Regions from separate parts of the Homo sapiens genome. Here region 1 is linked to region 2. The links come from fine-mapping of genetic effects on gene expression. A gene starts in region 2. The other region holds a variant in brackets. All regions are shown on one strand. Distances are from middle to middle. Region 1 overlaps LOC105374040 (a long non-coding RNA gene). Region 2 holds the start of PHLDB2 (pleckstrin homology like domain family B member 2).

The links. PIP is the estimated chance that this variant, and not a neighbour inherited with it, causes the effect.
Region 1: its variant is fine-mapped to the expression of PHLDB2 in fibroblasts (GTEx, PIP above 0.99). The same link has a PIP of 0.9 or more in subcutaneous fat and tibial artery.

What each region holds. Positions count from the first base shown.
Region 1 is chr3:111,796,737-111,812,050 of GRCh38, forward strand. LOC105374040 (a long non-coding RNA gene) reads right to left here. Exons shown (of 4, transcript XR_924333.4): 3 at 12,448-12,545; 4 at 2,442-7,712. It overlaps LOC107984087 (a long non-coding RNA gene), which reads right to left and starts at 1,859. Exons shown (of 4, transcript XR_001740848.2): 1 at 1,817-1,859. It also overlaps a transcript of PHLDB2 not described here. The variant T/C (reference allele first, on the strand shown) is at 6,675.
Region 2 is chr3:111,850,687-111,866,000 of GRCh38, forward strand. PHLDB2 (pleckstrin homology like domain family B member 2) reads left to right here and starts at 8,579. Exons shown (of 18, transcript NM_001134438.2): 1 at 8,579-8,890. LOC105374040 (a long non-coding RNA gene) reads right to left here and starts at 10,130. Exons shown (of 4, transcript XR_924333.4): 1 at 9,974-10,130. RefSeq lists enhancers at 8,401-8,987, 8,988-9,572, 9,903-10,012 and a silencer at 9,037-9,096.

The DNA.
Region 1 (15,314 bases), 54 kb before region 2:
GGCAGTTCTAAAACTCCTGACCCGCCTTGACCCCGCAAAGGGCTGGGATTACAAGCATGAGCCACTGTGCCTGGCCCAAGAGGGAGATTTTAAAAACACAAATCAGATTGTGTAACATCCTCAAATAGTAAGATATACAATAATAAAATGTAAAATTCTTATCAAGATTTACAAGGCCTATAAGCCTTCTAGTGTTATTCCCTATTGCTCTTCTCTAGGTTATTGACATGACTGGTTTTGTTTGTTTTTAAACTTCCTCTAACCCTTTTCTAGCTCAGGATTAGTCTACCCTTTTACCTAAAATCTTCTTTTCCTGCCTACCTTCTGGTCATGCCTCATGTCTTAGCTAAATGTGATCTCCTCAAAGAAGGCTTTCATTGATTACATAATCTAAATGAGTGACCCTGCTTTAGTTTCTCATTATATTTACTGTCATTCTTAGCATTGCCACAATATGTCATTATCTATGTGTTGACGTGATTATTGACTCAATATCTGTTTCCCCCACTGACCACATATCACCAGTGCCTAATGAATAGCAGATGCTAAAGAAATTAACAAATGAAAAAGAAAGATGTGGAACTTTGAATGGTTTAAGTTCTATTTAGGCAGACACACACACACACATACACACACAGAGAGTAGTTATTGTGGGTTATAGACCATCTCACTTTCCTAATTCTTATCTCAGACACTGAATAACTAGAGGCCCAGCCATTGCCACAGAATTTTTCCTTCATATTCTTGTTGACTGCCTTACTTGAAAGCAATTCAATCCATGTGTAAGGATTCCGTAAGACAGTCTGTCATGAGACAAAGGCAAAAATCCCTTGGTTCTATTTTTGCTACCATCTGTGTCTTTTTAAACTCCTCCTATATGTGGAACTTTTTCATTGCTTTGTTTGACTTCTGTAAATCTGCTAAATATGTTTACAAGCAACTTTCACAACCCTTCTCCACCATCACTCCCACTTTGATGTCCTACCATTTTAGAACTGGATAGATATTTAAGATGCTCTTAACTTTGCAGAAAACAGAACAACCAAGCCTCAGAGAAATGAAGTGATTTGCCGAAAGCTACGCAATTGTGATTACTCAATTGTAGAGAAATAGGGTAGGGTGCAGTGGTTTGCGACTGTAATCACAGCCCTGTGGGAAGCCACTGTGGAAGGATCGCTTGAGCCCATGAGTTTGAGGCCAGCCTTGGCGATATAGTGAGACACCCATCTCTATAAAAACATAAGAACATTAGCTAAGTGTAATGGTGCATGCTAGTAGTCCCAGCTACCTGGGAGGCTGAGGTGGGAAGATCCTTTAAGCTCAGGAGGTTGAGGCTGCAGTGAGCCAAAATCATGCCACTGCACTCCATCCTGGGTGACACAGTGAGACCCTATCTCAAAAAATTAAAATTTGAAAAATTTGAAAAACAATTGTAGAGGAATAGAAAACAAGGTGAACTTCTAAGACCTTGGCCTTTATAATTTACTCCCAAATTTTCTATCTTAAAAAAAGAAGAAGAAAAAGAATCAGGGAACATTCTAAATCTGAGAGTGCTCTAATTTTTCAAAAGATGTTTAAAAAGTCAATTTTTACCATCATTCTAAAGAAAGCAAGGAAATAAGACCTAAAAATATTTAAAACTCAAATCATCTGTATAGGAGAATTTTGGTATGTTCTAGGCTTCCTTGTGTTTACTTTTCATACTGCTTTCTGTAATCAAGTAAGATTAAGTGAAAATTACCTGGGCCACAAAACTGCAATGAAATTATTAAAGCATTTATTTAAAATATTTTCAGTCAGGTGCAGTGTATCATACCTGTAATCCCAACACTTTGGGAGGCTGAGGCAGGAGGATCACTTGAGCCCAGGAGGCCAAGGCTGCAGTGAGCTATGATCATGCCACTGTCCTCAAGGCTGGGTGACAGGGCCGGAGCCTGTCTCTAATAAAAATAAAATAAAATAAAATAAAATAAAATGTTATTTTATCTTTAATCTGAACAATTCTAGGATCTGGCATCTTTGATGTTTCCAATACAATCAATTTCAAAATATATGCTGAATTTCTACTATGCAAAGGAGTGTTGTTTAGACCTCATATGAGGGCCAGGAAGGTGAGCTAACATGGAGACAGGCTGTATGAGTCCACTCTCATGCTGCTAATAAAGACATACCCAAGACTGGGTGATTTATGAAAGAAAGAGGTTTGATTGACTCACAGTTCAGCATGGCTAGGGAGGCCCTAGGAAACTTACAATCATGGCAGAAGGGGAAGCAAACACATCCTTCTTCACATGGTGGCAGCAAGGAGAAAAATAAGAGCCAAGTGAAGCAGGAAGCCCCTTATAAAACCATTGGACCTTGTGAGAACTCACTATCACAAGAATAGCATGGGGGAAACCACCCCCGTGATTCCATTACTTCCCACTGGGTCCCTCCCATGACACCTAGGGATTATGGGAACTAAAATTCAAGATGAGATTTGGGTGGGGACACAGCCAAATCATATCACAAGCATTAAGAAGCTGGTACTCTTATTATAATGGGAGAGGCCCACATAGCCAAAAAAATCACTCTGAAATCTATCATGGTGTCAGCACAATTTGAACACAGACTGCTGTAAATAAAAGAGGAATAGTAGTCTTTGAATTTAATACTAGAAAAAAGTATTAGAAAAGAAAATTAAATTCTACTTCAGTTCTTCACATTGGTGAGGTAGACAGCTTCAATTGGTCTTTAAAAATATAGACTGATTTTCTATAAATTATTTTTTTGAAAGCTAGAAATACTTTAGAAATATGTCATCCCAATCAGAAAAAAGAAATTCTAAAGGAAGGTGAGGGAGAAGAACAAACAAGTAAATGTGAAATTGTCTCAAAGACATCAGGTTGGGTACTGAATTAAGTTTTTCTTAAAATCAAATTATAAAGACTTCCAGCAATTTCACTGCTGGAAATTTATACTGTGAATATCTTCCTATGTGAAGATATCTATTGTGGTTTTCCATAATTTACAGAAACTGAAAACAATGTTATGTATTCATCAGAAAGGACTGCTTTATTTAACTGTGTTCAACACATGTCATAGAGTACTATGCACTCCTGAAAATGAATTAGGGAGATCTATAGATACCAATATGGGAGGAGGTCTAAAAAATATTACTAAGTAAAAGGCAAGGAAAATAACTATATAGAAATATAAATAGAATCCTATTTGTGCAATAACAAGAGTGTATAAATGTACTCCTCATAAAGCATTTCTAGGAGGATACTCGAGAAACTTTTTTTTTGAGACAGAGTCTTACTCTGTTACCCAGGCTTGAGTGTGGTGGCACAATCACGGCTCACTGCAGACTCAACCTCCCTGGGCTCAGGTAATCCTCCCACTTCAACCTTCTGAGTAGCTAGGACTACAGGCATGCACCACCATGCCCACCTAGTTTTTGCAATTTTCTGTAGAGATGGGGTTTTGCCATGTTTCCCCGGCTAGTGTTAAATTCGTGGGCTCAAGTTTCTGCCTGCCTCGGCTTCCCAAAGTGCTGGGATTACAGACGTGAGCCAACATGCCTGGCCAAGAAACTCTTATTGAGCATATCTTTGGAAAATGAGACTGGGAAATTACATGAAAAGAAATTTTTATTTTATACCCTCTGTGCCTTTTGATTATTTTAAAATTATGGAGAGGTATTACTTTTGTATTACTTTTTGTTTATTAAATTCCTATACTATTATGCATATATCATTTTAAAACTATAGTTCTTTTAAGTTAAGTTTACTTGGGCAAATGTCCTAATTTCTTTTCTCACTGTATATCTTTAGTTTCTATATTCCAGTGACTTTGTTGTGGACTATGTGTTTGCCTCAGATTTTCCCATCTCTAATAATGTCATGAACTGGCATTTCTGAACTTTCATTTTTACTATTGGACTCTTTAATCCTGCTTGTTTTAAGAAGCATTTTGCAAGTTACACGTTAACTAAGATGCAGTACCTGATTTAAAGGGGACATACAATGCAATGAGAGAGACAGAAACTATTTTTACTTCATAAAATCCAGTTTTATAAAAAGCTCTGTTAATAACACTGAGGGAGTGTGAGAACACAAAAGAAAGCTTACTAAATTTGGCTGGGGAAAGAATCAAGGAAGATTTCTAAGAAGTTATGCCAATTAAGATAAATCTTGAAAAGATGAATCAGCTGGTACAAGTATAATACATTGCCTTCATAGATCATTTTGCAAGACTTAGAATTAGTGAAATTTAGACATAGAAGAGACCTTAAATAATATTAAATGTAACATTCTCATTTTTAAAATAGAGAAATGTGACTTGTTAAACAACATGAGCTGTGGGGTCAAATTCAATGGCCAATACAGAGTAGACACTTAATAAATATTTGCTCCCTTCAGAACTGGCCACATAAATTACAGGGCCCAGTGGAAAATGAAATACAAGGCCCCTTGTTCAAAAGTTATTAAGAATTTCAAGACAGTCACAACAGAGTGTTAAAACAAGCATAGGCCCCTCTGAGCACAGGGCCACATTGAAATAACCCACAGTCCTGGGGTTCATGAAGCAGGCCTCCCTCCCTCCTCTAATCTAAGTTTCAAGGGGTAAGTAGACACAGAAACTAAACAAGAACTCAGGTCTCCTTTGGATACAAAGACCTCAAAATTTTAAAAGCTCATAAACAATCTGTTCACCCAATATTTTTAACTGAGGTGATATGAAGATCTCATATTTATCTTTATATAATAGTTAATAAATTTGTGCCTTTATTCATTCATGTCACAAATATGAATAAATGTGTCCCAAGAGCCTAGGACAAGGCTGGTTCATAATAAGTATTCAGTGAAGAGTAGGTGAAGGATGGATGACCAGATGAATGAGTGACTAAACAATAAGCTACAATTGAGTATTATTGCCCATAAAAAGAAATAAAATTTTGATACATGTAACACCATGAATGAACCTTGAAAATATTATGCTAAGTGAAAGGAGACAGACACAAGAGATCACATAACATATAATTACATTTATATGAAATGTGTGGAATAGTCAAGTCTATAGAGACAGAACATACATTAGTGGTTGCTGGGGACTGGGAGGAGGGAAGAGTAAGGAGTGACTGCTCATGGATATGGGTGTTTTGTTTTGTTTTGTTTTGTTTTGGAATGATGACAATGTTCTGGAATAAGATAGCAGTGATGGTTGCACAACTTTGTGAATGTAATCACAAATATCATCAAATTCTAGACTTTATAAAGGGTGGATATTATAGTATATGAATTCTATCTCAATTTTTAGAATGTAAAACAATAAATTAACCAGGATAGAAAGATTTAAGTAACTTGCTAAAAATTGATTTGTGTTACTTGTGATGATTATGCATCTAACATCAAAACTTTGGCTCCTAGTTCAGGCTTTCTCCAGTCTATCAAGCTACTGCACAGAAAACTGCAGAGTGCCACCAGCTATCTCTATGGCTCCATGGAGCACTGTGCTTACATACAAGAAACCTCTCTTGTACCAAAGTGTAAACACAGTGGTGGCTGCATTCTGCCTCCAGAGGATCTGGCCTACAGAGTGAAGAATAAAGGGGAGACAGAGCAAGGGGAGAGCACTTTCCAAGAGCTTCCTCATTTTCTCTGTGTTGTCCTAGACACCACCCACTAGCCTTGTATCTCAGGTCTTGGTTGAGAAACCAAAATAACTAATGACACTCCTATGATGCCTTGGCAGCATTCCCTGATAACTTAGAATATTTATTTCCTGTTTTCCCAACTCTCATTTATTTCCATGCTAGCATAGAGCAAGATGACGTGTAACCTCTTGTGAAATGCTTGATATTTGTCCCTTAGAAGAGACATTAGTACTATACATTTAGCAAATAGTAAAATAACAACACTCATAGCTTGTTCTTGTGAGTAATATGTGAAAGTTTTCTAAACTGTATTTTAGTTTTAACTTACATTCGTTACAGCAGAGTGAGGCAAGCATCATGCATTCTCTCTCTTTTAAAGAAAAAGCACTAAAACTTCCATTTTTTCACTTCTAGTTTATGATCCTCTCTTCTTCCTTACCATGAGAATCAATAAGGGTGGGTGGTGTGAACACATGTTTTTTGTCCTGTCAGGAAAAGTTAAAGGTTATGGTCCTGCTCCCAAATGATAGATAATTAATCATCTTTAAAATGGCAACCTGTCACTGGAAAAGGAAAAGCAGAAATATAAAATAAAGCAGATATATGATATCAGGTAGCAACAAGGATGTCACAGATTTAATGAGTATAGGGGATGTTGTACAAAAAGTTTTATACTAATCTCTAGAAACAAAAGAAAAAGCAGAAATGATCTATATGTTCATAGTCTATATGGCCATCTCTCTAATTTTGAAATCAGCAGTCATTCCTTGGTTGGCATCTGCTACTTGGGAGCAGAGGATGGAAGAACACAGCAAACAAAAGTTTCATCGTTAAGCTGTGAAGCAGAGGGAACAGGCAGCTAGCCAAAACTTATGTGGTTCTTCAAATTTCTGATGGGGATCAGAGTGCCTCTCCCTCACTGACAAATATGGAATGGAATGTAAGGTTGCTACTAACAGGGTTCTCTGCAATCCTGAGATTGGTTCTGTTCTAGCCAAAGCTCTTGGATTCCTGTAAACTCCAGTCCAGTTGAAAC[T/C]TCCCGGGAGAATGTGCCCCCACCACCCCGTGCAGAACTCCTGGACATCTTAGTGACAGCCCCACCCCCACCACTAGTCTTCCCAGAATTCGAGCTGTGAGAACACATCAATTCCTGACTCAGGCATTTGAGTCAATTTTCAGTGAACTCAGGATAGTAGAATGGAACACCATCTCACCCACCAGCAATCCCTGGCTAGCACATGAGTGGGAGGAAATCATGGGCTTTGAAATCAAACAAACTCAGGTTCTTACATTCACTAATTACACTCAGAAACTGTGTATTCTTTGTAGAATTTGAAAGTGTTAACCTCATTGAGCGTTACTTCCCTCAGCTATAAAAAATGGATATAACAATTTTTTTCTCTGATGTTGCTTTAAAACAAAGTGAGATAAAGAATGAAAATTTCCAATTTACAAATATTTCTTAACAAAGCGTAGATTTGTTCCTTTCTATTCCAAAGCTAATGACTTCAGGTGAAATGGTATCTTGAGAGTGGGGGGCATTCTGAGGAATCAGTCTCAGACCAAATTCATGTAATCAGTTGAAAACGTCCTGTTTGATTAGTCCCTTTAAACTCTTTATGTGCCTTTCCTGTCCTCTAATTCAGTTTCTAAACTTTTGTTCAGTATCACATCCCTAAAGAAGCCTTTTTAGACATTTTTTCTGATCGTCCTCTCCTCCATGAGATTTAATGCCACAGAGACACCATTATGTTGTTTGTGAACTGTATATAGGTATATCTGTGCTTTATACATTAAAATAGTAAGAAAATGTTAAACCCCCCAAGAACCAATTTTCACCCTTTGGTGGACAATATTGTTCCTATTGAGAACACATGGTCTATAAACAAACAAAAAGTTAGAAGAATCTTTGAAGAGATAATCTTTTAAAGCCTGTGAAAGAAGACATTATTGAATTCTTCTGAAGAACAGAGTCTTCCCTTCATCATCTCTTAACTATTAGAGGTAGAAAACTTTGGCGAAGTTTTAACAATTTCTTGATTTCCTATGTTTAGCCAATGATGTTCAGGTCAACCTGTTAGAAATAAAGAAAGAAGCCTCAGATGCAAAAAAGTAAATGATGATGCTAGGCCCCAACCTACTGATGTATTGTTTTCTACGCAGAGTATAAGATATACTATCTGCAGCATAAGTACAGTAATAATGGAGCTAAACCTCAAAAAATTAGTCCCACATCACTTGACTAATAGGTTTCTACTTTACTCCATGTGGATGTCCAGATTTTGCCCAATTAAACTTTCATTTCTTATTTAAAATTACAGCTAATACTTACCATTGAAATTTTGGGGGGAAAACTTTGCTAAACTGCAGTGTTTATTTGACTTTTTAAATAACTGTGATGCTGAACAGTAAGAATTAATTTGCACACAGGGCTTCTAAAAAGTGGGCCACTTCTTATTTTGAGAAAAACTTCAAAATTATGTAATAAATTTCACTGAGAAATAAAATATTGACATAAATAACAATAGAACAATATCAAGTTTTTGGTAAAATAAAAAGTTATTCATGTGAAAAATAAAATAATAGAACAATACTAGGTGCTGGGGAGGATGTGGAGCAACCAGAAGTCTTATACACTGCTAGCAAGAATGTAGAATTTGAAAGTGTCAACCTCAGTCACTTTGGAGAACAGTTTGACAATTTCTTAACACGTTAAACATACGTGTGCCTTGTTACCCAACAAGTCTACTCCTAGATATAGGAATTTACCCAAGAGAGATGAAACATAAGTCCACAAAAGACTTGTACATAAATGTTTATAGCAGCTTTGTTCATTATAGCCAAGAACAAATTATGATATATCCATACAAGCTAATACTACTCAACAATAAAAAAAATTACTGGGGCCGGGCGCTGTGGCTCAAGCCTGTAATCCCAGCACTTTGGGAGGCTGAGGCGGGCAGATCACGAGGTCAGGAGCTCGAGACCATCCTGGCTAACATGGTGAAACCCCGTCTTTACTAAAAATACAAAAAAATTAGCTGGGCATGGTGGCGCATGCCTGTAGTCCCAGCTACTCGGGAGGCTGAGGCAGGAGAATGGCACGAACCTGGGAGGCGGAGCTTGCAGTGAGCCGAGATTGCGCCGCTGCACTCCAGCCTGGGCGACAGAGCAACACTCCGTCTCAAAAAAAAAGAAAAAAAATTACTGGATAAATGCAACAACATGGATGGGTCTCATAAACAGCAAGCTTAGTGAAAGAAGCCAGACACAAAAGTATACATACTGTCTGATTCCATTTTTATGGAATGCTAGTAAAGACAAATCTAATCTATAGTGACAGAAAGCAGGTCAGTGGTGCCTGGGGCCAGGGGTGGTGAGTGGGAGTGTTGACTGGGAAGGACACAGGGAAATTTTGGGATGATGGAAATGTTTATATCTTGATTGTGATGGTGGTTGCATAGATGTATGCAAAAAAAAAAAAAAGAAGAAGAAAAAAGAAAAGATACAAGAAGTCAAGAAAGAAGCCAGTCACAGAAGACTACATTTTGTATTATATAAAATTCCATTTATATGAAATTTCTAGAAAAGGCAAAACAATAGAGACAGAGAATTGGTCAAGAGTTATCAATTGGATACTTAAATGGGTACATAAAAAAACAGGTCAAAATGTTGTTAAAGATTCAACAATTCAAGTTATCTGCTGTGAAAATGCCATAAAGAGTTAGTATCTCTAGAATCATTATAGCAGTCATCTTCTAGTGCAAGTCCCAGTACCATTTTTAACAGCCTTATTGAGGAATAATTTGCATATCATAAAATTCTCCCATTGTAAGTGTACAATTATAGAATTTTTGATGACTATATATGATTATGCAACCAGCACCACAGTCCAGTTTAAAACATACCCATCACACCAGAAAGTTCCCTCACACCTGTGGCAGTCAATCCCCTCTCCCACCCCAGCCAACCACCGAACCAATTCTCTGTCTCTATAGTTTTGCCTTTTCTAGAAATTTCATATAAATGGAATTTTATATAATACAAAATGTAGTCTTCTGTGACTGGCTTCTTTCTTGCCTTCTTGAATCTTTTCTTTTTTTTTCTTCTTTTTTTTTTCTTTTTTTTGAGACGGAGTCTCACTCTGTCACCCAGGCTGGAGTGCAGTGGCTCAATCTTGGCTCACTGCAACCTCTGCTTCCCGGGTTCAAGCAATTCTCGTGCCTTCAGCCTCTCAAGTAACTGGGACTATAGGCACGAGCCAGCACACCTGGCTAATTTTTGTATTTTTAGTAGAGACAGGGTTTCACCACACTGGCCAGGCTGGTCTTGAACTCCTGACCTCAGGTGATCCGCCTGCCTCGGCCTCCCAGAGTGCTGGGATTACAGGCATGAGCCACTGCACCTAGCCCTTCTTTTTTTTTTTAATAACTTTTTTTTTGAAATGGGGTTTCACTGTGTTGTCCAGGCTGGTCTTGAACTTCTTCCTAGGCTCAAGCACCCTTCCTGCCTTGGCCTCCTAAAGTGCTGGGATTACAAGCATAAGCCACCATGCCCAGCCCCTTTTTGTTTTCTTAAGATGAAGAAGTTCTAGTTATGGGACTTGTAAGAGACATTAGTTGCAGGTCCAGAGCACACATTTGCCGATTCTCAGTCCAGGACTTAGCTGTGACACCATGCTATTGTCAGGATACAGTATACTAGATACAGGATACTAGAATAGGAAAAAAATAAACCTGGTTTAGGGGATCAGAATGGCTATTTCTAGCCATCCAACTCAACTTATCTGAGATTCAATTTTCCCTTATATACAATGAGGATAATAATGTCTAATGCATAGCTCTGTTGTGAGGAATAAATTAAGTGTACAGAGTACCAAACATAGAGACAGGCAAACATTAGGAATTTAATAAATGATAATTGCTGACTAGAAAATCACTTAAAGTACAAATGTTCATCTTGAGACAAAGAACATAAAGAGGGAAAGTCATAAATGTTGGAAACTGAAGATTAGGGTTTAAACATTGACTTATTTAAATCTCAAAAGAAGCATGAATCCCTGCCAGGCATAGTGGCACACACCTGTAATCCCAGCAACTCTGGGAAGCCAAGTTGGGAGGATTGCTTGGGGCCAGGAGTTTGCCCAGGAGGCCTGGGCCACATAGGAAGACCCCATCTCTACAAAAAAATAAAAATTTAAAAAAAATAGCCAGGCGCGTGATTTTTTTAATTTACACGCCTGTAGTCCTGTAGTCCCACTTGTAGTCCTGACTACTCAGGAAGCTGAGGCTGAAGGATTGCTCAAGCCTAGGAATTCAAGGCTGCAGTGAGCTATGATGGACCCACTGCACTACAGCCTGGGCGACAGAGTGAGACCCTGTCTCAAAAAAGGAGAAGAAGAAGGAGAAGGAGAAGAGAATAAGGAGAAGGAAGAGGAATAGGAAGAGGAGGAGAATGAATCTCACAGATTTAAGACAGTGCCAGCTAAATTGGGAATTATTTGCTAAATGTAGTTAACTGAACATTGCTTTATTTCTTTGATAAGAGGACCATTTTATAAATAAGCTGGGTGTTTTTTTTTTTTTTTTTTGCCTAATTTTATGAGTGACTCAATAGTTCTCAGGCCTGGCTGCACATTAGAGTCACCTGGGGAGTGTTAAAAATTACCAATGCCTGGGACCCAGCCCAGAAATTCTGATTTCATCGGTCTGGAAAGGGGCTGGGGCATTGGTGATTTTAAAGTTTCTCCTGGCAATATTAATGTAAAACCATTGTAAAGAACTCACAGCAGCATTAACAGTTTGATTCTCTGGGTCTTAGGGAATGTGTTCAAAATTGTGGGGTGAACTGTCTTTAGAGTATGCCACTCTGACATCTTAGAAAGAGACAAACCACAGAGACTAGCTGTACCCACCCAGATGTTCTATCCACAGATGATCTTTTCTTATTTTTCTACATGGTGTTGTATGTTTGTGCAATCAAACATAAGGGCTTTGCATGAATGACATTAGCTATGTCTGCTCGGAAAAAGGAGGTTGCCCTTCACCTCCACATCCTGTGCTGCCACTTTTCTTTTGAGTCCTCGGTCAGAGCTGGGTGTTTAAACATATATTCTGGGTTTTTTTTTTTTTCATCTTTTATTTTGGATTCAGAGGGTACACATGCAGGTTTGTTACATGGGTATACTGCGTGGTGCTGGGGTCTGGGACATGGATGATCCTGTCACTCAGGTAGTGCAGAAAGAGTAAACATGTATTCTTAAGCAATACATGTATATCTCATGAGTCACAGCTTCAAGAAGACAAATACAATCTGCATGGACTGGTGCTCTAATTAAAAACTCTAAAGACTCAGGAGGCCTGGATAAGTCTCCTGCCCTCTTTGGTCTTCAAATATTTAATTTGTACAATTAATGGATTTCCTTTTATAACCCTAAGGTATTTTCCAGTTACTATGATTCACTGGTTGTAATTCTCATAACTAATATAATAAAGAGCAAATTCTTTATATAGCATCCATTTAGAACTCTACTACTAGTACTAAACAATTCCTAAAATAAGGGTTTATATCTCTGTTAAAGTCATTAGTACATACACATAAATAATATCTTGGTCTTTGACTAGTATATTTATTTACCAAGAAATGCAATGGCTTAATCTATACTTTCCAGAAGGAACTGACTGCTGTCATCGAGGAGGAATAGTCACATAAATAAATTATTGTTCTTCACACATAGTACTCACAAAACCTTAGTTAATTGATTATTCAATTATGATATTGTGAAACTGTAACATGACATTAATCATTACCTGGTGAAATGATCATGGGCCTTTGTGTGATGCTGCGGCTTCCTGGGAAACTCACTAATGTATTCACATAAACCAGATGTGCCAGAAGAAAGCTCTTGCTGTGGAATTGATGGAGAGTTTGTTTAAAGAAAGGAAAACAACTCTAAATAGTAAAATAAATATTTTCTTCTGCCTTTGGGTGACCTTATGCTCAACCTCTTCCCTTATGAGAATGCTGTCTCCAAGCCTGTGGTTCTATGGCATGTCAGTAATCTGAAAAGTCTATCTGAAGTCCAGCAGTGGGCCACTGCCCAGCCTCACAAGCCTGATTTCCTCTTCTTTTCTCCACAAACACCCACATACTTATTAGCTCCCTCAGTTCTTAAAATGGATTCTTTTTATCTAATGCCAACTTATCACTGTATATCAGGTCTTTGACCCTGAAATATCTTTAGTAAGTTTGCTTTTCTTTGTTGCTAAGGCAAAGCCTGGCAGATTTACCTATCATCAAGAAGCTCTGATTTGTGGTGGTGCTAAGTTTGGAAGAAATATGAATCAATGAAATAACTTACCTGAAGTAAGAGTCACTTTAAATTAAGTTTATCAGCCCAGTCACTTGTAAAGGTTTGAAGACAATAGTCATGATGTAATAAAAGAGTATGCAAACTCAAGAGTTTAGATACACCTCAAGCATATAATAGAGTAACAAATTTCAGTTATGCAAGATGAAGACGTTCTAGAGTTCTGTTGTACAACCTATAGTTAGGAATTCTCCCTCCTCAGCCTCCCAAGTAGCTGGGACTACAGGCATGCATCACTGCACCCAGGTAATTTTTTAAAACTTTTTTGTGGAGATGAGCTCTCATTATGTTGTCCAGGCTGGTTTAAGAGCGTTAGTGCATCATGTTATGGTTAACAATCCTAAGGAAACACCAGTAGGGCATCACTCTAACACTGCCATGGAGCTATCTGAAAGAAGCTAGAGGCTATTAAGCCAAATGCAAGGTGACACACACAGAGGCCATACACACTAACCACAACCTGAGAGCACCTGAGATAGGAAATATGTGTTCCAGGAAGGGGCCTATCTGGGACCATATTACCGTGTGTTTTCATGTCCATTTCTGAAACTAGGCCTACTCTGCATGACTATCTTAATCTCCTCAGGCTGCCATAACAAATACTATAGACTGGGCGGCTTAAACAACAGAAGTTTATTTCTCACAATTCTGGAAGCTGGAAAGTTCAAGCTCAGGGTGCCAGCATGCTCAATTTCCGGTGGGAGCCCTCTTCCTGGCTTGCAGACAGCCCCCACTTTGTTGTGTGCTCACATGATCTTTCCTTGGTGCATGTATGTGAAGAGAGGGCTCTGTCTGTCGTCTCCTTTTAAGACCACTAATCCTATCAGATTAGGACCCCATTCTTATGACCTCATTTAACCTTAATTACCTCCTAAAAGTTCTCTTTAAATACAGTCATATTGAGGGTTAGGGCTTCAACATATAAATTTTCCAAGGACGCTATTCCGTCCATAGCAATGATATAGCAACCCACACAGACTATCCCTAAATGTAGAAATCAGTGTTACTCTTCAAAGCAACACATTTTTAAAAATATGTCTTCCAAATGCCTTATTTTTGACAACGGAATCCTTTGTCCAAAATAAATTTTACAAAGATCCTCAGTATATAATATAATAAATAAATACACTGGACAGTAAGTTTGGGAAATGTGTTTGATCTGTGTAGGGATGTACAGTTGTATCTGCACTAAACTAGCTCTGCAAGAGGATACAGAAGAGATTTCAAAGAGCTGTCATCCTAGGTAAATGGCCCAGATACATGCTCCATGAACCCCCTCAGGGAAACATCTTTGCTATTAAACAGGATAATCTGTAAGCAGAGCCAAAAAGGACTTTGGATGCAAGAAGAGACCAGGGGATGTCTCATCCTGAGTCATCAGGATATTTCTCAGGAGGATTTAAGTAACTGGTCTTACAGTTAAAGCCTCCTATAAAAATGTACTCCATTTAGCATTTAACTAATAAAACCAAGTACCTACAAAACTAGAAGCTTTATCCCATTAAGGAACCTTTCAGGACTTGGTGTTTGCATGAAACAGAAAGTAATCATTGCTATAGGAGAGTCCAAGTCTCTTCATGAAATCATTTTAAAAAATGTATTCTACTGTGGTCAGGAGAACTCTTGCATTATGCATATTTTGCTACCAATTAGTCTTGGTGAAGAAATGGCCCAGTTTTCTCACTGGCAAATTAAAGGGTAGATTAGGCCAGTGAGTGTCAAGCTTTAATGTACAAAAGAAATCGTTAGGCAGTTTATTTATTATTAATAATATGCAGGTTTTTAACCTGTAGGCCCCACAAAAATTTTGATTCACTTGCTCTGTGACAAGATTCAGGAATCTTAATTATTTACTGGCACCCTATTGATTGTGATACAGGTAATCAATAGATTCCTCACTACACACACACATACACACACACGAAAAAATGAAATGATGATCTTTAAACTCTTTCTGTCTTTCAGATACTATAATTCTGTTTTTAAGGTTCATATAAGCAAAGCAGGATATTAGGCCTACATTCCTGACCTATCTGCCAAAGAATTATTAAAAACAAACATCTTTTGCTCACTCTAAGCACACTGGATGATGCCATTATGATAAAGTCCAGGAGAGAGAAAGAGATGAAATCATGATGTCTAAACTATATTCATTTTTGTGACCTTCATCCTATATAAGCTGCTTTCCACCTTAACTGTGCATGTTCAAAACATTGCCCCAAGGTGAGAGAAAATTGCTTGGAATGTTCCTTCATCAACATCTGCTCTCTTTCTTCTGGCCCTGCTATCAACCCCGTCTCTGTGAAA
Region 2 (15,314 bases):
CCAGGTTTCAAGTTACAATGATCTATGATTACACCACTATACTCCAGCCTGGGCAAGAGAACAAGACATTGTCTTTAAAGTCAATACATAAATAAATAAAAGAACTATACTAGTCATAACATCACTATCTGTATCTCAGAAATAAATGCTTCAAACAACCATTTAGAATTTATTGAGCACTAACATAAATCTCCAGTCAGAGTTGAGTGCTATAAAATAATGTTTTTGGCCAGGCGTGGTGGCTCACGCCTGTAATCCCAGCACTTTGGGAGGCCGAGTCAGGCAGATCACGAGGTCAGGAGATGGAGACCAACCTGGCTAACACAGTGAAACCCCGTCTCTACTAAAAATACAAAAAATTAGCTGGGTGTGGTGGTGGTGACCTGTAGTCCCAGCTACTCGGGAGGCTGAGGCAGGAGAATGGCATGAACCCATGAGGCAGAGCTTGCAGTGAGCCGAGATCACGCCACTGCACTCCAGCCTGGGTGACAGAGCGAGATTCTGTCTTAAAAAAAAAAAAAAAAAAAAAAGGTTTTTACTAGTGTTCTTTGCGATTCTCCTGAGAGAAGCAATGACATTGCCCCCATCAAGTGGAAAATTAAAAATGGTCTGGCAAGTAGCTCTGAGCCCCTGCAGACACAGCCAGTTAATTGGAATGTTGTCACTGAATTTCTAGTCCATCAGTGACCCAACAGCCAAAATGGGCCTGCTCATGTGTATTTCTGTGAGCATTTTAGGATCTGTGACTACAGAGTAATCATAACTCTGAAAAAGGAAAAGGGCAGTCAGGAGTGGATGGAGAGATTTAATATCTTAATTGTGGCCCTAATGAATACGCAGTTCTCAGTTGAGCAGCCTCGACTTGAGACTGACACCTTGTTTAATACAGGAAGTAGAGTGCGGCTTTATTAAAGTCTTTAAATGTTGTGGCTGGAGCTCATATTTCTTTTTCACCCTATGCCTATATAATCATGTTGTTCCACTTCCTACATAGCCGCTGGCTCTTCCTGTTGTCCCGCAGCAAGAAGCCAGTGCAAGTTTAGAGTAAGGAAATGACATAATTAAAATGGTATTCGATGCGAAGCCTAAAATTCAAAGCCCCATCTTTCCCCTTTCCTCAAATCTGGCCCCAGCACCCTAGATCTTATCTCCTACTCCTCCCTCCCCAGCTCAGGCGGCTGTATTACTCACTCTTTCCCAAATCTGCCTTGGCTTTACTGTCCTCCTACATTGCTCATGGTCTTTCCTCTGCCTAGAAGGCCCCTCAACCTTTTTTTTTTCAATATGAAACTCACATATGTTGTCTTCCCTGTTGGACTCATAGGACACAAATACCCCTTCACCTGAACTCTTCTGTATCATTGTTTTTTAGTATATATTACATTATCATATTACAGTTATATGCTAGGCAGTATAAAACAGAGTAGGTGCTTCGTAAATTTGCCTTTAACATTCCTCATGTTCTGAATCCTGGCCCCTGCTCTCAGTTGTCAGAATTCTCCCGTGTGCTGAAGTCTGTGTATATCTGACACATCAATTTGGACATCTATCCAAATTGGGTAGATGCCCAAGGTGGCATTCTCCCTCTCTCTCTCGCTCTCTCTCTCTCCATATATATGTAAAATATATATTATATATACAATTATGTTATATGTAAAGATCATATATAATACACATATATTATATATACATAAATTAATATTATACATAGGATTATATATTATAATAATCCTTATGTATAATTATCTTTATACATAATATAATTATCTTTATGTATAACATTAAGGACAAATTGAAATCAAGGTATGGTATAACTGGAGGGATGATGAAAGTCAGATGAAAGGAAAAACAAAGAAAACCAACAGAGAGAAGAGAAGCTGAGTTCTCTTCAGTATCGAGGAATACTGCTGTTAAGGTGTTGGTTTCTTTTTTCCATGATAAGCAGATAAGATACAGAGAAACTCCTTGTTTTAAGCCCACTACGCAGGCAAAGTAGACCAATTCAGGGTCCTCAAGTGATAAGAAAAGTGAGCCAGATAACACAGCTGGGATAGGTTAATCTAAAAGACACACACACACACACACACACACACACATACACACACACCATCCTTTTCCTGCCTGATTACAATACAGACTCACAGAAAAGATTGGGGGTAGGGCAGAAGGAGAACGTTTAATGCAGAAATTAATCAGATGTTCCAAATAGATTTACATTTTTCTCATAATTAGAGAACCTACCTTGTAATTGTTTAAAGATAAACCAGCACATGGGGATAATCATTAAACTTGAGGAGACAAAAATTAGGTGTTTCCCTTTTTATGCCCCTAGGAGGTTAAAAAGTTATTTTCACTTTAGTTTTGGTTAACATTCTGGTATTAATTTGATTAATATGTTATTTATACTTTATCTATTTAAATATATATTAGAGAATGTATAGTAAAAACCAAATATTCAATAAGGTTATTGGAATAAAAATACATCAACATTTTAAAAAGGAGAGGAAAGCAAAGTCTTTATTACCGTTACACAAAAATTTAATGGTAAGCTTGACTCTGGGCTTCCTGGCAACAAGGATACAAAGAGAAACAGTGGGTTACATAGTTTCCCTTAACAACAGTTGCAGATCCAATGTGAAAATAGATGAAGATGACTTTTCTAAGAAATGAAAGTACATTCATTTTTTAGAGAGACAATTTATCTAAGTACTAAAAAGAGTGTGTAAATTGGAACTGAACTTATATAGGACAGTCAGTGTATAACTCAATGGTCAACATCATTATCAATAGTTCCAGAAAGGCAAACGTGGTTGGAAACTACTCTGCTGGGTGTTCTTTTTGTGCTGTCTGTCCTCTGTGCAAGGAATGGTACCTACATTAACACACTGGCTCATAAAATGTGAGTTCAGCCAGGTGCGGTGGCTCACACCTGTAATCCCAGCACTTTGGAAGGCCGAGGTGGGTGGATCAACTGAGGTCAAGAGTTCAAGACCAGCCTGACCAACATGGTGAAATCCCATCTCTTCTAAAAATACAAAATTAGCTAGGCATGGTGGTGCATGCCTGTAATCCCAGCTACTCCAGAGGCTGAAGCAGGAGAATCGCTTAAACCCAGTAGGCAGAGGTTGTGAGCCAAGATCGTGCCATTGCACTCCAGCCTGAGCAACAAGAGCAAGACTCCATCTCCAAAAAAAAAAAAATAGTTCTTACTTTTCAGAATAGAAGTTTGCTTCTCAGTGAAGATAAATAATGCACTCAAATTACTTGGCTATTGTATTAGTCCGTTCTCACACTCCTATAAAGAAATACCTGAGACTGGGTAACTTATAAAGGAAAGAGGTTTAATTGACTCACAGTTTCACATTGCTGGGGAGGCCTCAGGAAGCTTACAATCATGGCAAAAGGCAAAGGAGAAGCAGACACTTTCTTCACAGGGCAGCAGGACAGAATGAATGCAAGAAGGGGAAATGCCAGACACTTACAAAACCATCAGATCTCATGAGAACTCACTATCATGAGAACAGCATGGGGGAAACTGCCCCCAAGATCCAATTACCTCCACCTGGTCCCACCCTTGACACTTGGGGATTATGAGAATTACAATTCCAGGTGAGATTTGGTTTGGGACACAGAGCCAAACCATATTAGCTAGCAAAGGGGCTGAATCAGGGCTTAAAACCCAGTTCTGCCTTACTTCACAGTCAATGATTTTTCCACTGCACTTTGCAAGTAGAAACTTCTTGATTCATTAAATCATCATAATATTAAAGCGAACTTCAGCACAAACAATTGTTCCATGAGTTAAACTGCAGTAAGATTGAAATGAGTTAATAGCTACAAAGATTTGTTAGGCTATCATTGCAGAGAAAGGAGCAAATATACAGATTCAGGACATAAAAAGTTAATCAAATCCAACCGATCTTTTCTAATAAAAGAGAACAATAGCAAAAATAATTACAAATGGAATAACATAAATAATTCATAATATCACTGTATGTGTTTCAAAGTGAGCAGGTATGTACAAACCTACTCCCAAAGACCACAGAAGCTGAAAAGCCAAAGAAAGAGGCTGACAAGTCCAGTTTCTCAGAAAGAAACATTTAATAGAGACTTATGAACAGAAGCCATGTCCCCAGTGGCTGTGAAAAAAGATGGTGCATCTCCACGCTGTCACTCCCAGAGTCAAGACACATAAACTAAAGGAAAAGAATGTGTAGGAGAATTGAAGTCGACCCCTTGGGGAGAGGCAAGAATGCTCTGTGAATCTGCCCATGGGCAGGATTTATGGTCAAGGTTGTTTTGACCCAGGGGCAGGATTTAAGGTATCAGTAGATAAAGTACAAATCTTAGAGTAATTCCCAGAACTCGGGTTAATCAGAAGTCAACAGGTAATCTTCCATGGAATTAGGGTAAAAAGAAAAAAAAAAGTCAGCATGGCAGATTAGCATCCAAGATAGAGTTGCTTTAGCCTCAACACTGTGCAACACTTTAAGGTTCCCCACCTGAGAGGGTGAAGGACACAGGAAAGTAAGATCAGGGACTGTAACCACTACAGATCCTGGAGAGGCAAACAAGAAAGGTCTGCTGTTTAGTTTACAACACAATATCTCTAGTGATAAGGAATGGCAGAGCGCAGGCAGGACTCTGGTCTGTGATTAAACAGAAAACTTTATTATAAAGAACCCAGGAAATAGAAAAGGTAGAAAGACTCTCTCTTTCTTCCTTCCTTCCTTCCTTTCTTTCTTTCTCTCTCTCCCCCTCCCGCGCTTCCCTCTTTTTCCTTCCTTCCTTCCTCCCTTCTTTGCTTCCTTCCTTCTTTTCTTTCCTTTCTTTCTTCTTTCTTTCCATCACCATTACTAAAAGAAAGTCTGGTAATATAATAATAACAATAACAGTTGCACTTTATTGAGTGCTTTCTATAGATGTTGAGGTCTGCATTTGTCTTTTTTTTTTTTTTTTTTTTTTTTGGCGACAAGGTCTCACTCTGCCACCCAGGCTGGAGTGCAATGGTGCGATCATGGATCACCCAGCCTCGAATTCTCAGGTGATTCTCCCACCTCAGCCTCCTGAGTAGCTGGGACTACAGATGGTGCACCACCATGCCCGGCTAATATTTTTGTATTTTTAGTAGAGACGGGTTTTGCCATGTTGGCCAGGCTGCTCTGGAACTTCTAATCTCAAGCAATCCTGCTACCTCGGCTCCCAAGGTGTTGGGATTACAGGCATGAGCCATTGAGCCTGGACTGAATTTATCTAATTTAAGACTTGCACCTTCAGGGTGGTCTCGTCTATCTTCAGGCTGCTATGGCCTTATGAAAGCTATTGAAAACCACTCTAACTCATCAGGAATGGGAAACTTTGCTGGGTTTAGTCACTTGAAAAAGTCACATTCAATGACTACTTTTTGAGTCCCTTCCATATATAAGTCTTGGAGTATGATTCATACAAATATGAATAAAATGACTCCCTTTGCCTTCTAGGAGCTTGGCTATCCTAAGAGATAGAGATGCTAGCAGATAAAACAAGGCAGTGAAGGGAGGCCAGTGAGGATTACTTTTTGTCTAGTAATTTGGAATTATTCATTATACAGAAATATCCCCTAGTAACATTCATACTTAGAAAAGAGGTAGAAGGTAGCATTAAAGACAATGAACTCAAGAACAAGTGCTCAAATTCTGCCTCTACCAACTTATTACCTGAGTGACAACTGACTTCTCTGTGATTCCTTTTTTACTTATAAAATGGGAGTAGTAACAAACAGTAACTCTCACCGCATCAACTAATATTGTCCTATATTTGGAAGAATACCGGATACGTATACAATAGTAATTATTGCTCTCAATAAATTTAGCTATTTTTTTCTTAGACATAAATATTGGCAATCTAATTATGGCCATTCTAAATGTGCTGTGTTGGTGCACATTCTCCTTAGACCTGAAGGGAGAAAGGTTGTCTCTAAGATGTCTGTGTAGTCAAGTGTATTTCTGGCATTGCTCGAGGCAAGGAAATGTTTGCAACACAGTGCTTTGGGTCAAAGCCATCATTTATTCTTGAGCACCATTTACATGTCCGGTATCCTTGTAGGCACACTAGGGATATAGCACTGGAGAGAACAGGCAAAACTCTCTGCCTGCCTGCCTTACATTCTAGTGAGGAGAGACAGACAATAAACATAATTTAAAAAGTACATTTTACAATATAGTAGAATGTGGTGACTTTGTCAAAAAGTAAATTTAAGTAGTATGGAAAACACATTTTAAACTTTTAAGTAGAGTGGTCAGAGCAGGCCTGAGCAACACGGTGACATTGAACAGGGTCTTGAAGGAAGTGAGGGAGTGAACCATGCAGATACTTGGGAGGAGGGAATTATAGGCAGAGAGGGCAATTAGAACAAAGGCCCTGAGATAGAACGGATTTACCTAGGAATCTAGTCTACGAGGCCACTGTGGCAGGGGCTAAGTGAGTGATAAAGGGGAAGTAGGAGGCTGGGCACAGTGGCTCACACCTGTCATCCCAACACTTAGGGTGGCGGAGGCAGACAGATCGCTTGAGCCCAGGAGTTCAAGAACAGTCTGGGCAATGTGGTGAAACCCCATCTCTGCAAAAAATTCAATATTAGCTGGGCATGGTGGTCTGCACCTGTGGTCCCAGCTATTCAGGAGGCTGAAGTGGGAGGATCACTTGAGCCCAGGAGGTTAAGGCTGCAGTGAGCTATGACTGTGCCATTGCACTCCAACCTGGGTGACAAAGTGAGGCCCTGTCTCAAAAAAAAAAAAAAGAAAAGAAAAGAAAAAAAAATTCCAAGGTAATGGAAATAAAATGATTGTATGTTTATGGGGATGATCCAAAAAAGAGGAGGAAAGAGATGACGTGGGTGAGAAAAGAACATTGCTGGAGCACTTAACTGTTTAACTGTTGGATTGATCAGTGTATGTATGCTTCTGCAGGGCAAAAACTCAGGACAGGGAAAAGAATTCCTCTAAAAAACCCGGCATTCCTAACAAACATATGAAAAAAAGCTCATCATCACTAGTCATTACAGAAATGCAAATCAAAACCACAACGAGATACCATCTCACGCCAGTTAGAATGGCAATCATTAAAAAGTCAGGAAATAACAGACGCTGCAGAGAATGTGGAGAAATGGGAACGCTTTTACACTGTTGGTGGGAGTATAAGTTAGTTCAACCATTGTGGAAGACAGTGTGGCGATTCCTCAGGGATCTAGAACTAGAAATACCATTTGACCCAGCAATCCCATTACTGGGTATATACCCAAAGAATTATAAATCATTCTACTATAAAGACACATACAAACGTATGTTTATTGCAGCACTGTTCACAATAACAAAGACTTGGAACCAACCCAAGTGCCCATCAATGATAGACTGGATGAAGAAAATGTGGCACATATACACCATGGAATACCATGCAGCCATAAAAAAGAATGAATTCATGTCCTTTGCAGGGACGTGGATGATGCTGGAAACCATCATTCTCAGCAAACTAACACAGGAACAGAAAACCAAACACTGCATGTTCTCATCATAAGTGGGAGTTGAACAATGAGAACATATGGACCCAGGGAGGGGAACATCACACCCTGAGGCCTGTTGGGGGGTGGGGGACAAGGGGAGGGAGAGCATTAGGACAAATAACTAATGCATGCGGAGCTTAAAACCTAGATGAAGGGTTGATGGGTGCTGCAAACCACCATGGCACATGTATACCTGTGTAACAAACCTGCACGTTCTGCACATGTATCCCAGAACTTAAAGTATAATTAAAAAAGAAATTTAAAAAAGACATTCCGTAGGTGAGGCTCTCCCTAAAAGTCAAACTTTTACTTGCACATATGAAAAGTGTAATCATTAAATAAGCTATTTCTTCAGTGACGGTATACTGAGTTCTGCTCATGGTGCCAAGTACTTTGCATATATTATTCAGAAGCTTATTAGCTGCCCTGCAGCACCAGTATCATTTATTGCTGCACTCCAGGTGAAGAAATTGTTGCTGGGAGCTACAACAACTTGCCCAAAGCCACAATGATCATAAGTAGTTTGCGCTTCGTTGTGCTCTTCTTTGCTGGTGTGAGATTCTCGAGGGCCAATGTCCTTCATCTGCGTAACTCTAGGGACTCGCCCAGACCTTGGAAGAGGTTCACATTCCCGCGTGCCGAGATTGATTATGGGCCACCCTCGGTCTCATTCGTTGACTTCCAATAAAGCATTGGCTGGTGGACCTCTACATCAGCATTGTTTTCATTGGATATAGCAACTCAGAAAAATATTGGGGAAAATATAAAAACTTTCAAGAGATATGATTGCAAGAAAATCAGAATGAGTTTAAAACCCTCCTGACCCCAGTCCTTAGCTCAGGCCGTTCTCCAAGGATTTTGCAAACCTGCTTTCTGACGCAGCTGGTAAACTTGCCCCGGGGCGAACTGTCGGAAGGAGGTGCGGTCACCTGGAGTTTCCCAATAGATACTTCGCTGTCTGGTGAGGAAATCATCACCCTAGGACGTAAACCCTCCCGCCCTTCTTTCAGCTCTTAAAAAAAGCCTGCCACGAAAGTCCCTACTGCGTTGCTGCGAACGTAGCTTTGAGAAGCTGGCGCCCAGTGATGGGGCAAACAGCCATGCCCTTCCAGCAGCCGTGAAAGCCCCAACAGCAAACTGCCTGGGAGCGGGGCAGGTCACCAACTTCGTTGCTCGAACTCCCTGGGTGCCCGCCGCGGTGGTTACAAAGGGGGTCAAGAGTGCCGGACCCAGCCGCGCGGAGCCCACCATTGCGGCCCGAGGGGGACCCGACGGGGGCCCGACGGTGTGGCGTGGCGCAAGGAGCGCGCCTGCCTTCTCTCGCCGCCGGGAACGGGCTGCACCAATGGCCAGGTGAGGAGGCGGCGGTGGTCGCCCGGGAGGAGGGGGTGGTGCCGACTCCGTGTGCCAGGAGTGCGTCCCGGGGACGCTGCCTCCCCCGCGGCCGAGTTGGTTGCCGCCGGTTGCGCTGCGGAGGGTTGGGGGCGGAGAGGAGGCAGTGGCTGCCCGGGCCGAGGAGGGGCGCGCTGACTGCTCACCGCGAGTCAGGAGGGGCCGGCGGGCTCACGGAGGGAGACAGGGTGGGCGGGGGCAAAGGCTAGGCGCTAGGGCGGCGGCGCCAGCGTAGAGCGGCGGTTTGGAGGAAAGATGAGACGGTGAGTGGGCTCCGGGGACACAGAGTTTCTTTGCTTCTTTACAGGCTGTAGGGACAAAAGCCCGGGCTGGGGTCGGCAGTGCCCAGGCTGCGCAGCTGGGTGGGTGGGGGTGGCGAACCCCGTTGTGCATGACTCTCGGGGGGCTGGGTAGATCTCCGGTTGAGGGGATCCCGGGGAGGGAGTGTCTGGTAGGGAAGATGCTTCCAGAGTGATTGTAGAAAACAGGCAGAATGTGGGGGAACTGGGGGCAACTTTTTCCAGCAACTCTGGAATGCACATGGAGAGAGGGATGGGGATCCTTGGGATAGCTCCCTGAGAAAGAGAAGGTCCGCTGCTGGATGGTGTAGGGCGCGGGATTCAGAGAAGACTCCCTCCCCGCAAATATTTGGCTAGCTGCGCTTCTAGTTCCACTTTCTTTCAAGAGTGAACCTACGAGCTTTAACCGCCAAAAGCGGCTGATTTCGATTTGGCCTTTGACCCCCCACTGAAAGTTTACAGTGTGGCCGTCTCGGCACCCCTAGAGATAGCAGCTGGAAGGCTTGGGGAGTATTTTAACCCTCTGTTTCTCCAGCTCCCTGCGCGGCGGAGGCGCAGCTGAATCGTTTGCTGGTTCGCTTAATAACTTAGCCCTAGCAGTCATCACTTATTAAAGCGCCGAGGACCTGGCTAACTCCCGCCACCACCAGGAAATTAAAAGGCTGACAGGCTGTCCCTCCCAGGGTTGGGGTTTCCTGTTTGAAAGAGCTTGAGAAGTCAAACTGCTTCGCGGTTCCTCACTTACCTTTCTTATGTAAAAGAGGGAGCGACGCCCGCAGCTTTTTCTCTCGGTAAACTACCCGTGGCTGGAAATCCTCCGGGCGCCTGGCCCTGCCCTCTTCCCTAGAAATCTTTATCCTGCAACTCTGAAGTAGCTCTAAAGAGCTCTAGAATGCACAACTAGTCATAGCCAGGCACAGCTGGGAGTGTAACTAGACGAGGCATAAAAATGTGGAGTCTTTTTAGTGTAAATATTTGTCAGCCACATTTCCCTTCGTAATATGAACGTGTAAGTTACAGATGTAGGTTTTCAAGTATTGGACGTGTAATTTTAAGCTTCCTAGTTTGGTTTAATTTGGGCGTTCGAGATATGTCTCTGGGATTCTAACGTTTGAATTCGGCTGGGAGAGATCTAAATGAGGTCCACAGTTTCAGAAGGTTAAACTTTTGCCCTGTGAACACTTGAATTCTTGGTTCCTGGTAGGTTAGCAACAGAACTGTCGGATTTGGGATAAATAAACCGTTAGAGTTGCCCACTATTTTAACAGAATGGCTATATCTCTCTTGCCGTTGCCTTCAATTGTGTAAATATTTGTTTGAATAAAGAGCGAAGGTTCTTTGAAAAGTAACAGTTCTGTCTATTCTTGGCTCCCCTTTCATATCCTCTGCTTAGTTATTTAAAAGGATTTTCTTTGCCTCTTACATTTAATGGGGAAATTTAAACATTACATGTACTTAAATTCTGTAAAGTTACCAAACCATTTATAACTGGCAAATTATTTAATGACAAGGAAGAGTTGAGTTTGTCGTCTTAGTTGGCTAATGTAGCCTTCATCTCTTGAGACCCAGAGGTTTGCAGATCTCAGCCTGTCAGAAGTGGAAAAATGAGATGTCTGGTTAAGAGTAGTCATCATTTCAGTCAATTTGCAGGCCTCAATCTGTTTTATGCAGCTGGCAGCTGCTGTTCTTTTGGTGTTGAGATCGTCTGCCACGAGTGTCGCCTGGATCCCTGTTTGAAAAGGGGAGGAAAAGATACTTGGGAAATTGGACTGAGAGCTTGCTTACTCCTCCGTTCAATAACTGTGACCAAGCTGAAACTCGTTAGCAACCTTTCCAGAAACGTTTTATTTACCATGTGTGTTTGTTGTGTATGCAAGAGAGGAAAAAATAAGCCAAAGTGATTAACCAATCTCTGGTTTTCCCTATTTTCTTCAAAGCTCCATTTTGAGATCTATAAGCAAGGGTTGACTCTCGAGTTCATTGGAGAAGTTACCTCGGCTCACTACAACTTCTGCCTCCTTGGTTCAAGCCATTTTCCTGCCTCAGCCTCCCGAGTAGCTGGGATTACAGGCGCCTGCCACCACACCTGGCTAATTTTTCTATTTTTAGTAGTGACAGGATTTTGCCATGTTGGTCAGGCTGGTCTCAAACTCTTAACCTCAGGTGATCCACCTGCCTTGGCCTCCCAAAGTACTGGGATTACAGGCATGAGCCACCACACCCGGTCTCCTTTTAAATATTTTTAAAGGAGTAGTTAACGTTATGGCTTTATATCCTGATTTTCAACCCTTAGCAGGGAGGCAGTGCTATGGTGCTGTGGATGGCTTAGAGTGACAGTGGCTTTGTACATTTTCTAGGTGGAGTACCTGTGCCTTATGAATCTATCTGTAAAGTCTTGGTGTACCAATTGTTGATTGTGTAAATGTCACTCTTTTGAAACAAAAACACCTAAGTGATGTGCTTTATCTTAAAGTCCTGACATACATTAGAGCTGTGGTTTTCACTGGGAGAGGGGTTTTGGCCCCCAGAGGATACTGGCAACGTATTTTTGGTTGTAGCAACTGACAGGAGGAGAGTGCTACTGCCATATAGTGGGTAGAGGCCTGGGATGCGGTTAAGCACCCTGCCATGCACGGGACACAAAAACAATTATGCAGCCCCAAACCCTGCACTACAGTATTGCCTGGGGGAGTAGGTTAACAAGATTAGGCATCTTAATCTGATTTGGATCCTCAAGAAACTTGTTTAACTGTGTTAAACAAGAGACCCTTATCATAGAAGCCGTTTTGTATGCAGCAGATTCTTTTGTCCTTGCCATTTAGAGTCTTAATATACCATAGAGGTCGAGGAACTTGTGTTCATTGACAACTTTGAGATGGATTAAAGTCATGGGATTTGGGAGCATTAGAGCACAAGGGAGCCTCAGAGATCACTTAATTTCTACCCCTTCTTTTTATAGATGTAAAAAACTGAGACACTCAGAGCTTTAGGACTCATAAGGTCTCAAGCGAGCTAAGGGCGGGCAGACAAAGTTCTAGGTACAACCCAGGAGTTAAAAATTTTAAAATAGAGATTCAGGCAAATGGGAACAAAAAACAAAACACACTGGACCTGACCTTGTGTAAAAGTTTCAAAGCACCATTCCCTGTGAGAAAATAAATAAATGCTTCGATGGGGGAGGGGTGGCATTAGCCATAGAGACTGTGGGGCACGTGCCTGGGTGCCCCAGTCCCAGAAAGGGGTAATTCCATTATATGACCTGTGACACTCCACTTCTGATGCCTGTACTGTCCTTTCCATGGCAAAGTAGGCAACAGATGGTTCCACAGACATAGCAGATGTTGCTTTTGAATCCAGGTACAAAACAGAACATTTGAGATTTTCTGTTCCTCCCTGCCTTATCGGTTAAGAGTAGAGTACATGAATGGATAGGGCTGGCTTGGACAGAAGGGAGAATTACAGAGGCCTCCTGAGTATGGAAGAAAAAAAGACACCTGGCATATATGGAAATGAGCAAGTGTTGGGGAAATTGTGGGAGAAATTCATAAGCTGATGAGGGGATATCTAATATAAATTCAATTGCATAGAACTAGGATTAAGAATCAGAAGACAATTCAAGCTTAGCTATTCTTTCAGCATGTAGAACAAAATAACTATGGGGGTAAAAGGAACCTTAGAAATCCTCTTATCTGAATCTTTTCCCTCCAACCAACTAACTGGGTTAGATAGCGGCAGAATCTGCAAGCCTCCTGTTCTATTGTACTTTCTCCTGCACCCACAGTCTCTACCATTCCATGTGTTTACCTAATGGGAAAGAAAATGATAGTAAAGAAAGTTATTGTTAATTACTTGGGAGAGTTTAAAAAGCATGGTATTTGTGAATGGCTGTTTATAGAAAGGAGTTACCTTAATGAGTTTATGATTATCAGAAAAGTTGTACACCATAGCCTGATTAATTACAAACATGTATACTCTCCTGTTTACATTGCTATGGTTAGCCATTAGGCTCATGATTATAGATTCTAGTTCTGGGTGCCAAGCTGTCCTCCTGTGGTAGTTATTTTATCTAATACTCAAATCTGACAGGTTCTGGCCATATAGGAAAGTTTTTAGTATGCCTTTGGTGGGAGACATAAAACCTCTGAAAAGTGTTAAGATAGTTTCTTATCATTTTGACAACTAGCCAAAGGGTGCACCTCAAAGCCAAGTACATAGTGATATATTTAGAAATGACTCAAGAGTGATAGCCCTTTTAAGGGATCTGCCCCCCCGCAGGTACTATGCAAAAGGGGTGTAGCAGTCTTTTCATTATCATCTTTCATCTGGCCATTCTTGTTACTGTTTTTCAGATGATGGGAGAGGAGACAGGAGTAGTTTTTAAAAAAATAACTGTTGGCTAGAAATATTTATTGGGATTTGATTAAAGTAACTTGTCTTTTAAAAATAAATGAAACCAAAATTGTTAGCTCAGATTTTCAAATCCCTTCAAAGTAAACATTTAGCAAGGCAGAACTTCTCTCTATGTTCATCCAGGAATTTGAACCTTCTGGGAGTTAATTTGCTTACAGTTGTTTTCATGACGCTTAAGGATGTTTCTTAGACATTGCAGAAAAGGAGCTTTGTGCTGTATCTGCTTTAAAGGCAAGATAGTTGTCTATAGCAGCTAGTGGTCAATAAGAGAAACCCAAGTGTAAAAATCATTTTACTGTTGTGTGGGAAACTAGAGGTTGTAGGTAATTGCTATACAAAGAAACAGATTAATAAGATATAGAGTAACAGGGTTAGTCAAAAAGTTTTTGAGAGGATTTTTACAGGAGATACTTGTTTAGTGTGTTAGGTTGATTTTATTAGATGAAGTGCTTTTCCTTACTTTACAAAGTAAAAGGAAAGAAAATATTGTGTATGCCACTGTTTATCGATGGCCTTAAGCCAGGTCAGCTTTTTCTGAGACTTGCTGCTAATTCAGTGGGAATTGGTGTTGATCATCTTAGAATGTTTTGTTTGCACATTGCATGTGACTGCCCTAGATGGCAGTATGTTCATGGAACTAGCCTATGAAATAGCAAAAAAGTTAAAGATTACAAGAGTTTTCCAAGATTTCTTTCTTGACCACCCTACTGCTAAAACAAGGAAAGATAAAGGCAAAAGAAACCCAGCTCCTACATTCTTTTGACCAGTGCAGACCCAGTGTGAATAGTGCCGCACAGCCAAGAGATATTCAGAGGGGATTGAGAAGTGATGTCTGGCTGCCTCACTGCTTACGTCATTGCAGAAGTAGCTTTTCAAAAACAGCTTAAGATTTATTAAGGAAACTGCAAGCCATGGGAATGCAGACAAAACCTTTCTTATACATCATGCTCAATCAAATACCCATATTATATTACATTACCATAACTCTGACCAGGCCTTTTTCCCACTATGTTATGCTAAAACAATTTACCATGCCTTTGGAATGTCATGGGCAACAGTCCGGTGAAATCTTTTCCCAATTAGGTAGCTGCCACCTTATCACTAAAACTATTTCTGTTCTGTGGTCATTTCCATTTCCTGCATTATGTAATGAGCACTCCTGTGTTATTTAACCAGTATCTGTGGGAGTCCAGAAAGTTGGAGCAGAAAGAACATGTAGTTCACTCTCACCATGTTGAGTATGGAGAAACTCCTGTTGAAACAAAATGAAGACAGGCGAATTGACGTGCTCCAGATCTTAGTTCTGTTAGCAGAACCAGAACTAAGATGGATCTTCTGACTTGCTTCCCTGGCAGCCTATCCAGTGTTCTTTCTACTAGATTGGCCACTGTAATAAAAATAACATCCTAACGTAACCATTTCCTTTATTAGATCTTTTGGCCAGAGTTATTAAAAAAAAAGCATTGATTAAAATTAAATTAAACTTAGTCAATTGTTTATCTTGACTTGTTCAAGTTATTTCCCTTCTTTCAAGCAGTAAGTGGTCAAAAGGTAGATAGCATGGAAGGGAAAAATTAAGTGTTTTATAATACTCATTCTGCACAATCAGCTGCTAAGTAATGAAGATATGATATTATCATAATTATTATTTTTACTTTACAATATTTTAGAAACCT